Linked DNA regions of Homo sapiens: all the other regions are linked to region 2. Evidence: fine-mapped expression QTL. A gene starts in region 2. Each other region holds a variant in brackets. All regions are shown on one strand. Distances are from middle to middle. Region 1 has its middle 39 kb from the start of TPO. Region 2 holds the start of TPO (thyroid peroxidase). Region 3 overlaps TPO (thyroid peroxidase).

Region 1 (6,291 bases), 38 kb after region 2:
AGGTACAGAGGGGCGGCTGCAGCTCACCCTGCCAGCCGCTGGCCTGCATTTCCCCACCTGTGCTAACTCTCCCAGCGTGACTCACCCAGGGCCAGGAGAACCTGTGAGGACAAGACCGACATGAATTTGGTGGGTTCTGAGGACACAGGATCCGAAAGCAGCCAGGCAGGGCAGACTCACAGCCTGGTCCCTGGGTCCTGCCCTTGTCCTTCAAAGACTCTGTCTGGGTTCATTTTGAGCTCTTGTGAAGGTGCAGAAAATTCCTCTCCATAAACAGAGAAGCCTGGCTCCTCACTTCTGCTTCTGAGCCACGGCGAGGTAAGGGTTTCCTGAGAGCACAGAAATCTCCAGAATCTCCTCGAGGCTAACTTTTGAAAATGCCTTTCATAAAACTGTGACAGCAATCACAAAAGGGCCATGGCTCCCTGTATTATCCTTGTAGGGCTTTTGAAATCTACCAGAATAATCCGTGAGAGAAAGACCGTATTCCAATGCATACGACTTTCTTCTGTGTAAGTCAAGCTGAAAAATAACCAGAGGTGCTGATCTAAAGGCAGCAGGAAGACTGGTTTACCCGAAGGACACACTGTGGAGCTTCTTTCTGCTTTGCATTTACTTTGAATTCCAGTTTTAAAGGAACAGTTTATTAAGGGAGAAAACATTTTTATCACAAAAATTAAATATTATTTAAGTGGCCGAGCTCTGACTCTGGTGTAAATTCACCAGTGGGAGCCAATAAAATATACATCCTTTTCCCTAGCCAAATTCCATATTATCTATTTTGTCTTTGCCAAATATAAAGTAATTTTTAAGTAAAGCCCTGACCAAAAGCTGTCTTCACTGGTTTTTAATATCATTGTTATCCTGCCAGTGCCCTTGGGAATTTTACTTTTTTTAGATATATGAATTTGGTCTTCCTTTCACTACCAGAATTATTTACATTTGTTTAGCTTTTAAAACAACATCATTCTGTTGTTTTACTTTTTGTTAAAGAATATTACTTTTTGTTTGAGAATATCACTTTTTGTTAAGTGTCTTTACTTTTCTTTCACAGGAGAAAGGGGTGGTGTGAAGGGTGCTCGGTCATGGGTCTGGGAGGTGGAGGGTGAATCTCCTGCCCTGCCTCATCCGTGTGGACTGGACTGGGGGTGCTGTTCAGACCAGGCTCTCTCCTCCACTATCAGCACTGCCCTGGGCACCATCAGGAACAGCCTCAGCCCCACGCTGGTGCTCCCGCGAATGCCCCGTGTAATCACCACGGGTGATGTTGAGACCACGCCTCACTTCAGAAGGCTCATCATAACAAGCAAAAATGTCACTTTGGATCAATGGCTAAGTGGAAATTGAATCTCTATGAATACTACAAAATAGTTTCTTCATAACGTATTTAACAAATCAAAGAAACTTTTAGGAACCTCCCTAAACCATTGTTTAAAAGAGCAAAATGTCTGGTCAATCCAGTTCACATCAACGCATGTGGGAGCTTTCACTGGAAAGGAATAAAGACAGAGGAGACACTCTGAGTCTCAGTTTCAGAGCGAGACATTTGCATGGCCCTGGTTCCTGGGGCAGGCAGTGCAGTGATGGCGGGTTTTATACCCATTAGCTCTACAATGGATAATTTGGATTTACGAAGAAAATACTGAGATTGCTAACTCCTCGGAGGAACAGATGGTGCCGCGCTCATCTTTATTTACAGGAATTACCACGATGCACGTGCTGGGTGTCCCATGTCCAGCAAACGCAGCCTGCAGCAGCTGGGCTGCAGGTGTGGGGCGTGGCACCCTGAAGAGGAACCCGTTGTGCTGGATGAAGCACTGTCATTCCCTCATGCATAGCATTAGAGAAACGTTCGTTGTGCGTGACTAGAAAAATCCTCCTGTCTTCCCACCTCTGGTGTCTCAAACAAAGGAATCAGAGATTCGCAGTGAGGAGGTGGCTTCCCCAAAAACCAGAACTAGAGTTTAGAATCAGAGGCCTGAGCAATGCCTGCAGGGTTGGAAATGAGGGTGCTCAGGACATGTTTCATAAGGACGATGTAGACACGGTGAAGGAAACACACTCTCAAGACCCCAAACTCACGATGCCACAGGGAAGGTTAAGCTTGGGACCCGCGTCACACAAAACTGCCTCCCTTTTATTCCCAAACAGGCAGCTGTGATTTCCAGGGCTTACCTTATCGTGTGTAAAACGTGGATTCACTAGCGCTAATCAGAGGCCCACGAGATTGCGGCCACATGCCTGACTGTGCCCCACTGCCTGCCCTCCCTCTTTTTCCTTCTCCCCTCCTGCTCGCTCTTTCCCCTTTAAAGTTCCCAAAACCCTCTTTGGAAAAGGCTCGGGTCACAGGTCCCACTGGGACTTGTGTTTGTTTTTTCCGGGCACATTCTCAATCTTAGCAACATAAACTTCTAATTGACTGAGATCTGCTTCGGTCACTTTTTGGCTTACAATACTGTAAACCAAAATAAATCCTCCCTTTCACGACCAAGGTGAGTTTCCCAGTTCACCAGTTTCCTATGCCAGTGTAGGTCTGAGTCGAGCCCATCTCTCCTATCGTCTGCCTAACCAACATGATTTTTCAGCCCTAAGCAATGCGTGGTCAAAGTAATTTAATGCAATTTTCTTCATGCTTTTTTTTCCCTTTTTAAATTTTAAAAACTTAAAAAAAAATTAAAAACTCTTTAATCAACATTTTCAGTTTTTCTATTCTTAAATATCTGTTGAAAAGGTATATCTATGGTCGGGTGCAGTGGTTCATGCCTGTAATCCCAACACTTTGGGAGGCCAAGGTGGGTAGATGACGAGTTCAGGAGATCGAGACCATCCTGGCTAACACAGTGAAACCCCGTCTCTACTAAAAATACAAAAAAAATTTAGCTGGGCGTGGTGGCGGGTGCCTGTAGTCCCAGCTACTTGGGAGGTTGAGGCAGGAGAATCGCCTGAACCAGGAGGCGGAGGGTACAGTGGGCCGAGATCGAGCCATTGCACTCCAGCCTGGGTGACAGAGCAAGACGTCATCTCAGTAAAAAAAAAAAAAAAAAGAAAGAAAGAAAGAAAAGATTTCTCTATAAATTACAGGGCTCATGTTTTCTGGTGTGATGTTCTTTTCAAATAAATCCTCATTAACATTTTTGCAGAAATGGTTTCAAATTTTGTCAGTTAAAACTTAGAACCCGAAAGGGGCAAACACATGCTTGTCCTGGAAAGAAGAAATTAAACACAGTGACCACGGTTTCTATGACTTATTAAGTTTGTAACACAGCTGGGAAACTCATTATCCCTGTGTGTATGACAACAAAAGATTAACTTGCTCAAAAATTCAGCCCGTTCAGTAAAAAGGAAAAGGAAAACACAGAGATCCTACCAGGTGGACGGTGGGTAGTGGGCCGCCAAGGTGCTGACTGACGGAGCCCTTTCTGAGTGAAGGGCCCGGTGTCTCACGGTGAGGCTGGGGTCAAGGAAGGATTCCGGCACCGACCGAAGGCAGGGTCTGAGCTGGGTGCGTGTTTCCAGCCCATTGCCTTCAATCCTTGTAGCAACAATCATTGCATTTCCAGCAGGCTGGGTAAAAAAGATTTCCATCTGAATTATCTTTCCTTATAA[T/C]CTCGTGAAGAGGAGACCATGGCTGAGGGCTTCATCCAGAGGGAAGTGGCCACAGAGGTGAACTGCAGACTTGGCCGCCGTGACCATCTCTCTTGTTTGTTTCTGAGTGTGCAAGGCGTTTCTCCAGGATTTCCCCTCAATTTAAGGGAGGCGAGTGCAGGTTTTGTCTGTTTGCTCACGCGGCCTTTCCAGCTCTCGGATACTTGTTGGCCGGGGGCAAGTCTTCCTCTCATGGCCCAGATGGAAGTCATTGTGAAGTAGGTCCCTTTTCCCCGCCCACCATGGAATCAGCCACGGGGCTGATCTGAGATGCCAGCTGGGGAGAAAACTACGGTTCTGCTGGGAATTCTCAACGTGATTCACCTGTGTGTCCTCAGTGTGAACCACTGGCTGATGCAGGGAGAGCGGAGAGACTGTGGGAGGGGCGGCAGTGGACTTGTTTTCCCATGAGGCTTATTTCAGACGGCTTTTAAATACCGTTCTTCTTCCCAACGGACACAGGCACTTTTAGATCTGCCATGGGGCAAGAACTGCTGTTTACAACACTCAGCATGTTAGTTCTGAAACTGAAATGGCCCATCAAGATAGGTTTCAGGTAGCAGCTTATCTTTTACAATATCATCTACAGTTGGCTTAAGTATTTTGAAGCTACATATATTCATCTTAAAACTGTTTCAACTTTTTCTTCACCACAAACAACTGTATTTTAGTTTGCGTATTGTAATACCTCTGGGCCTGGAGCTTGGACTGTCCATGGACCTTTGAAGTTAAAGGCATAGGAAAAGATGCTGAGGCTGTGCCCTGGATGGGGGATCATTCCCACAATGGTAAAACTGCCACCCACACTTTCCTGTGTTTGAGTTTTCTGTGACATTTCATTATTATATACCCTGCACAAAGTAGGTATTCATCTATCTGTGCTTTTAAAAAGATTGTCCTGTTGGAAAAGATTTGGGGTAACCTGAATTTCGAAGAGTCATGTAGTCCGTCTTATGCTACGTCCCACCCAGACTCACACAGTTTCACAGAGAAAAAAATGACATAGTAGAGATAGTGTGTAGGATACATGTATAAGGTCAGTTATATTTATTCTATCCCGTGTTTATACCCAAACTCCCATATGTACACTCTATTAATAGTGAGAAAGAGTATTGACTCTGAGTTTTAAGATTAAAAACACAAAAAACCCATTATAATATAATCCAGTTTATGGAAATTCTGCTAAGGTGGCAAAATTACTGTGCACTTTGTACAGATTGTCCAGAGGGGTGTACAGCAGGATAGCTTCCTACCTGCTCTATGAAAACCCTAGTTCCTGACATGTGCTGTGGAGTTGTGTTTTAAAGGAAGCACCTGATACAAAACTGACCACCTGTTGGGAACCAGTGTGTCAGTGTCCTTCTTGAAACATGGCTCCCAGAACAAAAGTCCACGTTTCCTGTGTGAACTGACCGGTTCTGGGTGCATGGCGAGGGGCAAGCCATTGTCTGCCCATCTTCCTTCACGGTGAGCACCAGAATGACATCGGCGTTTTCAGCAGCTATGTGCCATGGCTTATCCCAGCCTGTGAGCTGCCCATCCATCCAAGGTGCCCATCCACCCAAGCTGCCCATCCACCCAAGCTGCCCATCCATCCAAGCTGCCCATCCACCCAAGGCCGTGGCTGCAGCACCTGTCACAGTGCCTGGTCCCCGGGTTAATGCTCTACAAATACTTGTTGAATGGATCAAAAACACTTTCACCTAAATGTTCCACATGCTTCTCCCAACAGCTACTGTTTGGGAGACCGGGCTCCCCTTGAATCTTTTCTTTTTTAAAATTCAATGATAGTACTTTCTTCTCTAAAACATCGATTGTGTTAGTTTATCCCAGGGTTTTAACCTGTTAAGGGCTTTACAAAGTGTTAATTTTGTACTTCAGCATATGCCGCCTCTGGGTCTCTGACTTAGCCATGCTCCTGACGATGTGCCAGGCATGTCTTCATTTTCCACCGTAACCTGCATTTTCTGTGTGTACTTCTCCAGCTTGCTGATAGGGAGTGCTTGCAAGCGCTTCACTGAAATGAGGAACTTATGTTTCTAAGCCCGCGTCTATCGGGGCCTTTTTCACAGATAGAAAGTGCTTTTCCTTAGGGAAATGGTGCTGCCTGTGAATGCTTCCTGCTGCTTTTCTAGCGTGTGTGCACAGATTCCATTCATAACTTCAGGAGGCACCTGGTTGCATGGATAAGGACACCCTTAGAGATGGCAGGCACCGGCTCAAATCTCAAAACCCACTTTTCCTGGTTTGCTGAGAACTTCCTCCCAGATTTCTCACCTGATGCCCATAATGAGGTTGTGAGGGGGTGAAGAACAGGGATTGTGACTTTTTCTATTCCATATATGAGCAAAAGAGTTAAACATGGTAAATTCTTCACACGGGTTTAAACTTGCTTGTGGTCACCTCAGAAAGGACACAGAGTTCTCCCAACTCCTAAGCCAACAGTCTTCCAAGCCTTGGCTCCTCTGGTTTTGACAGCCAGTGTGCTGACAACTGTATTTAAAAGTCAGGTCGGAAACCTGTGGGGATTGTGGGCATCGGGGGAGGGGTTATGTACCCTCCACCTGTCTATCTCTTGTCCCAAACACTGAAAGCAGCAAACCAGAACAACATGGAAATGTTCTCCATCTTATATCTGTTTTGAAA
Region 2 (6,190 bases):
AGAGGCCCAGGGACCTGCCCGGTGAGCTGTCACCTGCTCCAGGGGCCCCGAGACTGTGTCCAGAGGCCCAGGGACCTGCCCGGCGAAGTGTCACCTGCTCCAGGGGCCCCGGGACTGTGTGCAGAGGCCCAGGGACCTGCCCAGTGAGGTGTCACCTGCTCCAGGGGCCCCGGGACTGTGTCCAGAGGCCCAGGGACCTGCCCGGTGAGGTGTCACCTGCTCCAGGGGCCCCGGGACTGTGTGCAGAGGCCCAGGGACCTGCCCGGCGAGGTGTCACCTGCTCCAGGGGCCCTGGGACTGTGTCCAGAGGCCCAGGGACCTGCCCGGCGAGGTGTCACCTGCTCCAGGGGCCCCGGGACTGTGTGCAGAGGCCCAGGGACCTGCCCAGCGAGGTGTCACCTGCTCCCGGGGCCAGCGGTGTCCATGGGGTAAAATGTCCAGGCAAATGCCCCTGCAGTATTCACTCCAGTGAAACTTGTTCTCAGGGTTTGGAACTTTATTTATTTTATTAAAAGAAAAGCAAAGAGCTTGATCTGTGATTATTTTAACCACTGCATCTCAGTAGCTTTCTTAACTTGTTTTCACATAGTAGCACACTGATTCCAGAAAATACATCACAGAAGTTATTTAATAAAAAATAATTCTGTAGCAAAGGAAGAAAAACACTCCCAAAGAATTTTTTTTTCAGTTATATGAATAGGTAAAAGTGAAAATTGTCTATTGTGTCATCCAAGGAAAATCAGCTCTTTTTTAAAGAAAGAAATGTACATATTTCAATCCTTCTAAAATCAAGAATTACAATTTTTTTTTCTTAAGCATAACAAAGCATACACTACAGGGGCCTAAAGTGACTCTCAGGAGCTACCATTATGCCCTCTATTTTAGTAAGTGTGAAAAATAACTTTATAAGGCCAGAAGACCGCAATGTGTTTGCTACTTACCCCAAAGGAGTTCTTTCCCTCTCGAGATGAAGGGGAAGAAGGCTTCTGTGCAGGCCATAACCAGCGTGACAGACAGCACAGCGAGCGCTCTCATTCTAAAATTAACGGAAGGAGACAGAGTATGTAATCAAGCACTGACAAGGCCATGGGAACCGCTGTGTCCTTGTCTCCCTGCTGAGGGGCTCCCTCCACTGACTCCACGCAGCCTCTACCGCAGTGAGCGACCCTCACAGGCCTGGGGTCTGCGAGACCAGAGTCGCCGTCCATGTCAGGAGGTTACAGAAACTGCAGCGCTGAGCAGGCCTCCCAGGCCCCCATTATTCAAAAACAGAGTTTTTATGTTGGCAGCTCCAGTTGCCAATATATCTCAGTAATAACCTATTTAAATTTTTGGTAATGTCAAATAGTGTAACAGTACTGGGAATAATTATTGGGAATGAAAAAAATCTGTTTCCCCTAATGCATCTATGTGGCAAAAAGTGAGTACTATTAGAAATTTAGTCTTTATAAAAGTGATAAATAAAACCCCTAAATGCCTATTGAATTTCTTAAAGCATTCTTATGTCCATAAAATGATTTTAGAATTCTAGTTGTTAAGACAAAACAGAAGATTCAAAATTCATCATTTCTACTTTCAAATCCTTGTTTTCTTCTCTTAGGCTTTCTGTGGCTATTTTTGAGCCACTAATTTTGTTAAGCAGGATAGCACCAGTGAGTCCATGCTGACAGGAATGTGTCTCAGTAGACGGTGATCTAGGAATCGACCCTACAGGACTCACATGTTCCAGCGGAGGTCATTGCAAACAGCACTCATCAGTCAGTCAGTCAGCTTTGCTGAGAGACGCCACCCATACCTGCTATAATGGCCCAAATTACAGCCACTCTTGGGCCACTTTACAAGTTCCAATGATGAATTTCTCTTAGAAAATGGAAAAATAAAAAGCTTTACAACCTGACCTTTTTTCCTCTTCTCAGCCAACTGCACTGCTGAGTAATTTTCACGGCTGTAACTCTTCTGAAATGGGCGCCTTAATTGCCTTCCAGGGACTTGGTTACCCACCTTATAAACTGACTCCGCGCTTGGATAGCCCGTCAAGATGCTAGGAAGTCGAGTGGCGTCCGTTCTTCGTGGGGACAGAATGTCTGCGGGCTTTGTTGTGTTTGCGCCGGGCCTCTTGTGTGTCCTGACTGGTCAGAAACAAAGTGCCATGTCATCGGGGTCCACATGCAGTCCAGCCTCTGGCCGAATGAGTTAGGAAGAAGAGGGGAAAAATTATACAGGGAGAAAGAATAAACCAACTAAATCCAGACTTGTGACACTTGCATTTTCCTCCCTCTTACTTTCACAGTTAAATACCCTGTGAAAAAGGGGCTGTTAATCTTCCGAGGATTGGGTTGGGTGCAGCTCCCAGGCCCACCGATGACTCGCTCTACAACTCTGAGCCTTTTGCTTCCTGTCCCCAAGCCCCTAGTTTTCTTATCACTAAGAGGTGAATAAAGTACACTTTTTTCCAATTTGTTGAGGTGAAAAATGAGCACAGTTCAGTGTGTGTTCACCAGCATGCATTCTCCCCTCAATCCTCATCATGCACCCATCAAAAGAGTCCCCACAAAGACAGAGATGTTCTGTAGGAAGGTCACCATGACTGCATTCCGAACACTGGGAGATGACATGTTTTCATGGGTGATCTGCTTTCAGGCTGTATCTCATCATGAAAATGATAAAATAACACATCTTCAATGACCTGCTCCTGAGACTTGGAGCCTCTTCATGCCCCCGGAAGTCCTATGGGTTTCTAGTTTGTGAAAATCATCTTCATCTTTCTCCTTTTCTTTCCCTTCTCCAAATGTGACTGATGCTTCCTCTAGGTAATTTGAAACCAAATGCTAAAACACGATGCAAAGGCTTCAGAACATTAATCTTTGTTAGAAGATGTTCTGAAGCCCAAGAATGTGATGATTTGCCTTTAACATTCTCCCCTCAATCCTCATCACTCACCCCTCAAATGGGTGAAGATAACAAATGAGTTAGACAAGCTCTGAAGAGCAGGGAGGAGATCAGCCAACAGTGATATAATCCCCCCACGCACCCTGAGAATGGTCACTAGGAGGGTGGGGTTTGGATAGAGAGGAAGGACCAGACTCGGTGGCTCATTAAAGAGGATTCCATGGCTCAATGATGAGTTACTGTTGGGAACAGAAGAAAAGCACAGAGCCTCTGAGGATTCAGCCATCCTCGGTTTGATGCCTAAGCAAGTGAAAATCTCATGTACTGGCCCTAGGAAGGCCAGAGAAGAAAGGAGACTGGCTGTGACAAGCAAAGGAGCAGCAGACTCAGGCTTGGAATTGTGTTGGAGGTGCCCGTGGCACAGGCGGGCAGTGAGCTCTTGGGCATTTGGAAATGTACTTTCAGCTGTTGGGTGAAGTCCAGCTTAAAAAGACACATTTGGGAGTCCTGAGGGGGGATACAGTAGTGGACTGTGAGTGAATGGGATTCTTCTTGGGAGAATGTGGATGGAAAAGACCTCAAGAGTAGCTCAGAGCACCAGCGTCTAGGGGACACAGTCCCCCAGCCTGTGACTGCAACCTGCATGGCAAAAGGGGCTTTGCAGATGGGATTCAGTTAAGATTTTGAGGAGGGGAGATTAGCCTGGATTATCCACTGGCCTTAGTGTTAGCACACAGCTCCTTACAAGACAAAGGTGGGAAAGTCTGAGGGGAGAAAGGGGGAAGTGATGATGGAAACTGAGACTGGAGGGCCGTGGCCATGAGCCTCCAGAAACTGGAGGAGGCCAGGAGCAGGGCCTCTGGGGTCTCCAGGCACAACCAGGCCTGTCCCTGGACCTTGCTGCCAAAAGTCTCATTTGGATCTATGACCTCCGGAGCTGATGGAGTAAAGCCACTAAGCACGTGGCCCTTTGTTAAGGCATTCGCAGGAAATTCACACAGCCAGAAAGGTGGGTGGTAAAATGAGACAGCGTGGGGCAAATACTCAAGGAAGAGTTTGAAGAAGAAAGCATTAAAATGTAAAGTAAATACTGACTGGATGCTCTTTTCATCACAGAAGGACGCTTGAAAATGCCGAGTGCCGATGGAGACCTGGGAAGAGGGGGTTTGCATGCACAGCTGGGGGAGGCCGAGCCGGCACATCAACTCTCCAGGTCGTTTTGTAGCCTCTCCTCTAAGTTGCTGTTACCATTTGACCCCGCACAAATATGAGAAATGTATCTATCATTTGAAAATACATATTTTAGCTGGATTACATGATGTGCTTATTTTAATACTAATTAAACAATATAAATAATGCATCAAGTACAATGGAAGCTGTTACACTGGAAATGTTGAGAGGGGAGCGGAGAAAAGTCTGAGAATGGCGGGTTTGCAGGAGGCCCACTGGATAGCACACACATTTTTGAGAAAGAAGACGGGGGACTTGGGAAGGAAGATTTCTGCAGGGGGACGTGGAAAACCCGAGGCTATCACATAATGGGAGAATGAAAGAGAGGCAACTAAAGATCTGGCTGAAGCCCCCAGTCTCTGTCAGAAAGGAGCATTGGGAAGACGTGGCCACCCAGCAATGGAGAGCAGAGAGATTGCAGGGGAGACTCAGTGAGAAAGAGGACAGTTTTAGCCATGAGAAGGAAAGAAAAAAATACACGTCTTCTCCCATTATGAGAAAAATCAAGGAGCTCCAAAGAAGACAGAAATCTGCAAGGAACGCATGATACAGTAAGAAGCCAACTCACACATGGCAGGATGGGGGAATGCAGGGCCCTGCTACAAGCAGGTCTCAGTGAAGGAGTGGCACCAGCCCTGCGGTCCAGTCCCGGGCCCACCGAGAAGACAAGCACGCTTCCATTTTTTGGCAAGTGCCAATGAACTATTTGATATCCTGGGGAAATCTGATTACTGAATACCTTGATCAATGCATGAGAAACAGCAAATCACACATTTTGCTTGATGTCTCCATAGAAAGGCCACCTTTCTCCCTGCAGACATCGTGTGTTCTGTCCACAGACAAGAGGCTCTCCCTAACCGAGGCCCAGGACCACCTGTAATAGGCCCTTGCCTGTGACTGTAACAGAAAAGGGATCCAGGGTGGGCTCACACTTGACTCACCTGACATGTGGCCAGGGCCTGACTGCCTTGTGTTCTTCAAACTACAGCCTGATGTTGCCTTTTTTACTTGCCATTCACTTTTTAGTTTTTGTTTTCCTCGCCCCCAGCTTCATCAAGCTATCATTAACAAATACAAATTATACATATTTATGTTCACATGATGTTTTCATACATGTAAACACTGTGGGGTGATTAAATCAAGCTAATTAACATATACAGCACCTCACGTATTCATCCTTTTGTGTGTGTGATAGGAACATTTAATATCTATTCTCCTAGCGATTTTCAAATAAACAATAGTCATCAAGCTATACATTAGATCCCAGAACATTTTTATCCTGCAACTGAAACCCTCACTTTTGACCAGCATCTTTCTGCCCCTCACGGCACCTGTCCCCCCCATGGCACCAGCCCCCACCACACCTGCCCCCCACCGCACCTGCCCCGTAACCCTAGGTGTCCACCATCCACTCTCTGCTTCCATGAGCTCGACACTTTTAGATTCCATATAGGAGGGAGATCATGAGGTGTTTGTCTTTTGGTGCCTGGCTTGTGTGTGTATGTGCACGTGCATGTGTGTGTGTGTGTGCGCGCACTGTTTTTTGTATTTTTAAATTTGTAAGTTTATTTTTTAAGAGATGAACATGGATGAGAGGAGACTCAGGGACCTGATGACCCCCGACGGCCGTGGGCTGCACAGTGCCAGGACTGGATCCTGGAAGAGGAAAGGATGCAGATGGAAAAGCTGGGGATACCAGGGTGAGCTCTGAGATGTAATCACCAGCATTGGATCCACGTCCACTCCCTGGTCCTGGTTGCTGTGCTGTGGCCGTGCATAGAGTTAACACTGAGCAGGTGGGTGAAGGAGGTTTGGGAGCTCTGTGTTATCTTCCAACTCTTATTACAGCTCAATTCATTTTAAAACAAATTTGGAAAATAAAATGCTGTCATTCAAACTTAATTAAATTCCCCTGTAAAATTTGAAAAATTATTCAGCTTTGTTCAAACTCAGGTAGGTAATTTCCCAGTTTATATGAGTCAGATAAAACTAAAGACAAATACAGGAGGGTTTTTGTTAATTGAAATTCAGGAAATAAACATGGGGCTCTCTCACACCACAAAAAGCTCCA
Region 3 (5,000 bases), 50 kb before region 2:
ATCAACGAATAATAGATGTTGGTGTGGATATGGTGAAAAGGGAACAACACTTCTACCCTGCTGGTAGGAATGTAAATTAGTACAACCACTGTGGAAAAACACCGTGGAGATTCCTTAAAGAACTAAAAGTAGAACTACTATTTGATCCAGCGATCCCATTCCTGGGTATCTACCCAGAGGAAAAGAAGTCATTATACGAAAAATGCATTGGCACATCCGTGTTTATAGCCGCACAATTCACAATTGCCAAACTGTGGAAGCAACCCAAATGCCCATCAATCAATGAGTGGATAAAGAAACTGTGATTTTTTATATACGATGGAATACTACTCAGCCATAAAAAGGAGTGAATTAATGGCATTTGCAGAGACCTGGTTGAGATTGGAGACTATTATTCTAAGTGAAGTAACTCAAGAATTGAAAACCAAACATTTTATGTTCTCACTCATAAGTGACACCTCAGCTATGGGGATGTAAAGGCGTAAGAATGACACAGTGGACTTTGGGGACTCAGGGGGAAAGGGTGGGAAGGGAGTGAGAGATAAAAAGCTACAAATTGTGTTCAGTGTATACTGCTTGGGTGATGGGTGCACCGAAATCTCACAAATCACCACTAAAGAACTTACTCATGTAACCAAACACCACCTGTTCTCAATAACTTATGGAAATAAAAAATTCCAACATGAACATAATTCATAACCCACTAACTCCACTTTGTAATATGTACCTAGAGATACACATTGGTGTGCATGAGGAGGCTTGCATAGCTTTGAGGTTGTCGATACATTCATAGCTACATATTTTCTGCAGTGGATGGGGGGTTTGCAGCACCCAGTGGAACATCATCGGGCTGCCTGCACCCCCACTTAGCCGAGACCAGAAGGAGCAAGGTCATGAAGAAAAGCCCAGTCCTAAAATAGAGGATGCTGCAAAGCTCTCACAGCTCCCTGGGCTGAGTGATCAGTAGTCAGAGACTCAAAACACTTTAATTTATAGTCTCGTGTAGTTGCTGGAAACATGTTTCTCTTAGGAAAACTGAATAAACATAGATATGATAAATTGTGTGGATCATTTTCTGTTTTGCTTTGGGATTCAAAAGTCCCAACTTGCTCCAAGCTCACTAAGAACTTCCACCCTCTCACTCCACCGTAAATACTCAGAGACCAAACTGGATGCTTTGAGTGTAAAGGACATCAAACATTTAAAAGCACTGATTTATGATGTGTCATCTATTGGGTTTATGGAGCTACTCCTAGAGTATACGGTATATTTTTCATCTCACTGGAGTGACTGTTAGCTCAATCACTCAACTACTGAAGGCTGCCCTGGGGATGGACAGGATCTGAATAATTGATGGACACTCTTAACTGCAAGCCAGGAGGTTCATGCCTGACACCAAGAGCCCTGGAAAGTGCCCTGGAGACCCACCCTGGGGCCTCTCCCACGTTCTCACCCACGGGCACGCAGGTGTCCTCCCTGCCAGATGTGGTCTTGCCTTTTATTTTTAAAATTGTTTACAAATAATTTTATTGTTATTTTTCTCTAAGTACAAAGATAATATATGCTCAATAATGAACATTTTGAAATAAGAAAAGTGACAAGTACAATATCATCTAAAATTTTACTAAGCTGGGCAACATTTTACCATTTCCATAATATCACTGTATAACATGATTGTCTAAAGTTGCTTGTGTTTCTCATGCTCATAGCCTGTGATCAACGTTTAAAGTTTTTCAGTATTTTGGTGATATAAACAATCGTGACAAACTAATATATTCACCCACTTTTAAGGGCAGTTTGGACATTGTCCCTAGGGAAGATTCTTGTGGTGCTGTGAATGGGCCTGATTTCATTTCATACCTTATGTCACATCGTGTCCCGAATGTATTCACCAGTTTACTTTTGCACAGCAATGCATGGATGCAAATGATTTCTCAATACCCTCAACAACACTAAATTAAAATTTCATAATTTCTTTCCAGTCTGTATGTTTAAAAACAGCATCTTGCTGTTCATTTATCTTTCATTGATATCTGTGTGTGTGTGTGTGTGTGTGTGTTTACCTACACACACGTATTTGGGTTTTCTTGTAATTTTCTTGTTCACATCGGGTGTTTATTCCATTGGGTGTTTATTTTTTTCTCATTGCTTTATAAGAGCTCTTTATAGAATGAAGATAACAATTCCTTGTGATTCCATATTTTCAAGTCGTCCCCTGAGGGTTTGCCTCTTGTCTGTGCCCTGAGTTTGTGTCCAGGGACCTTAGCGCAGAGCCCTGAGGTCTGGAGTCAGCTCCTCAGCTCCTGGGAACAAGCCCTGCAGGCTCCCCGCCTGAGATGGTCCAGCCCCTCCCCGCCTGCTGCCC[G/A]CAGCACCTGCCCCAGCCTCTCTGCCTTCAGGGTCCCACAAGCATGTGCTCCGTGTGGAAGGGAAGTGCTGTCAACCCCAGTCCTGCCCCACGAAAGACAGGCTGGCCCAGAAGAGCCAGAAGAGAAAGTTGAAATAGGGCAGAGAGACGGTACCTGGGGTGACCGGGCTCACTCTAACTGAGCCCTAAAAAGAAAGGAGGACACTGGAGAGTGACATGGCTGATGAGAGCACCCGCCTTTCCCTTGAGATCCAGTAGGGAGCCCCGAAGGAGCCAGTGCCCGGACCCCCCGGAACCTCTGCGGGGGTCTCCACGGGCATCACAGTATCCTGCTCCTCGCCACGGCCCCCCCTGCCCTCGTCCAATACACTCCTGAGTTACACAGGGTCCGCATGTCAGCAGAAGGATCCTGGAGCAGCTGTGTGCATGTGAGGTGTGTGCAGGTGTGTGTGTGGGTCTGTGTGTCATGAGCATGTATAGGTGCGTGTGCCTGTGTGCACGTGTGTGTATGGGTGTGGGTGGGTGTGCGTGTGTGTGCACAAGGGCGTGCACACAGGTGTACGGGCGGTCACGGTCACCTGTGCCTGTGAGTGTGTGCATGCCTGTGGGTATATTTATGCCCGGTGGGGCAGGGGGCCCTGGGGCCCAACTCACTTTTGCTTTTCACTCCCACTCGGGTTCTTCTGAGGAGACTTTTCTTAGGACGAAAGGCCAATTCCTCCCCTGAGGCAGGTGGAAGTCCAGTTTCCCCAGGGCCAGCCTACCCAGGCGGCACCATAGCCACAGTGCCTAGGGCCACAGGAGCAAGTGTGGTCACAAAATCTTTAACTTGCTTTAAAATCAGAAGAAAATAATAAACATTTAGGCCAAAGAACGTTTGAACCCACATTAATATATTTATCTTTATACGAACGCAGCCATCCACATAACTGAGTATTGTGGGTGGAGGAAGGAGCCTCTGGGGGCGGGTGTGTGGGGCTCACCACAACCATCACGTGACCCTGGATACCAGCAGAACGTGCCCAGGATGATGCCCTGGCCAGAGGCCCCCCAACCTCCCCCACGGTGTGTGTGGCCCTGAAGGGCTGGGCTTTTCCTGGGGTCCTTGTCTGGCCTCAGGGCTACCCGTGTCCTTCCCACCCAGATGGTGGCCCCCAACTGTCCCACCTGTCTGGACAAACATAAATTACCCCAATAGCAGCCGCAGACTTGCAAGAACAATCCCTCCTTCTTCCAAGGCTGCTTTTCACCAGCTCTTGCCCAAACCAGCGAAACTCCAGGAGATCCCCAAAGGTGGAGCCCCCACGCACAGTGATTCTCTCAGTGCAGCTCCAGGGGAGCCCAAAGGTGGAGCCCCCACCCCACTACACAGTGGTTCTCTCAGTGCAGCTCCAGGGGAGCCCAACCTCCACACAGAGTAGTTCTCTCAGTGCAGCTCCCTACCCAACGTGCTCCCTCCCTGCTGAGCTTCCCTAATCACCCCACATCCCTCTCAGAGGTCTACGCTTCCAGCAACACAGCAATAACAATACACGTTCATTGAATTCCTTCTCTGAGCCTGGTTTTGCAAATTCGATCTCATTTCATTCTAATTGCTACATTATTAGGTGGGAAATATACTCTTTTTATGGACAACAAACCTATATACATGCAGCTAATAAGTTACAAGGCCAGCCTGGGAAATATACTCTTTTTATGGACAACAAACCTATATACACGCAGATAATAAGTTACAAGGCAAGCCTGGAACCCAAGACCTGATAGATAATAGGTGCCCATCTCCACTGCTTCTCCAGGCTGCATAACTCAGTCATTTTTTTGCACAGATTCTGCTGGGGAGCCACTTAGCTGGGAACGAGGGCCTCTGCTTGGCAGACTGTTCATTGCTGAAGATACAGGTACTTCTGCAAGATCTAACAGCTCTAATGTTAACAGATGAGAACTTTGGGGTCCTGAGTGGTGAAGAATAACACTAGGGCCAGGCACAGTGGCTCATACCTGTAATCCCAGCACTTTGGGATGCCAAGGTGGGCAGATCACTTGAGTTCAGGAGTTTGAGACCAGCCTGGCCAACACGATGAAACCCCATCTCTATTAAAAATAGAAAAATTAGCCAGGCATGGTGGCGCATGCCTGTAGTCCCAGCTACTCAGGATGCTGAGGCAGGAGAATCGCTTATATCCGGGAGGCGGAGGTTGCAGTGAGCTGAGATTGCGCCACTACACTCCAGCCTGGGCAAGACTCCAGCTCAAAAAAAAAAAAAAAGAAAGAAAGAATCCCAGGTTAGAGGTACATGCAGCAGGGAACACATGCAGGGGGCCGCCCTGGTGAGGGGGCTCTGCAGAGAAGAGCAAGGGGCCCCCTGTCTCCCAGGGTCTGAGCCCCAGCGTGTGAGAGAGAGAGACCTCCTCCCAGGGACAGAGGCTGGACCTGGCTGAAATTCAGTTTCTATGATTGACACAGTCTTTATGGTGCTCCTTTTCCACCTTTCCCCCAATATTATTCCTTTTGGGATATTTTGTTTAGATGTCTTGATTTTGCCCACTGGGACCTCCTCTGCAGATGCCCAGAATTTTGTAACTGCTGGTTTATGTAACTGTCCTGCCCACCTTCCAGGGACCAGCCTGTCTTCCTT

Evidence for each region.
Region 1: its variant is fine-mapped to the expression of TPO in tibial nerve (GTEx, PIP 0.99).
Region 3: its variant is fine-mapped to the expression of TPO in visceral fat (GTEx, PIP 0.92).

The regions. Positions count from the first base shown.
Region 1 is chr2:1,371,479-1,377,769 of GRCh38, reverse strand. It overlaps a transcript of TPO not described here. Among named protein-coding and RNA genes, the nearest start is that of TPO, 39 kb to the left of the region's middle. The variant T/C (reference allele first, on the strand shown) is at 3,607.
Region 2 is chr2:1,409,254-1,415,443 of GRCh38, reverse strand. It overlaps TPO (thyroid peroxidase), which reads right to left and starts at 1,981. Exons shown (of 17, transcript NM_001206744.2): 1 at 1,899-1,981; 2 at 942-1,036. The coding sequence starts at 1,035.
Region 3 is chr2:1,459,577-1,464,576 of GRCh38, reverse strand. All of the region lies in intron 7 of TPO (thyroid peroxidase), which reads right to left. Among named protein-coding and RNA genes, the nearest start is that of TPO, 49 kb to the right of the region's middle. The variant G/A (reference allele first, on the strand shown) is at 2,366.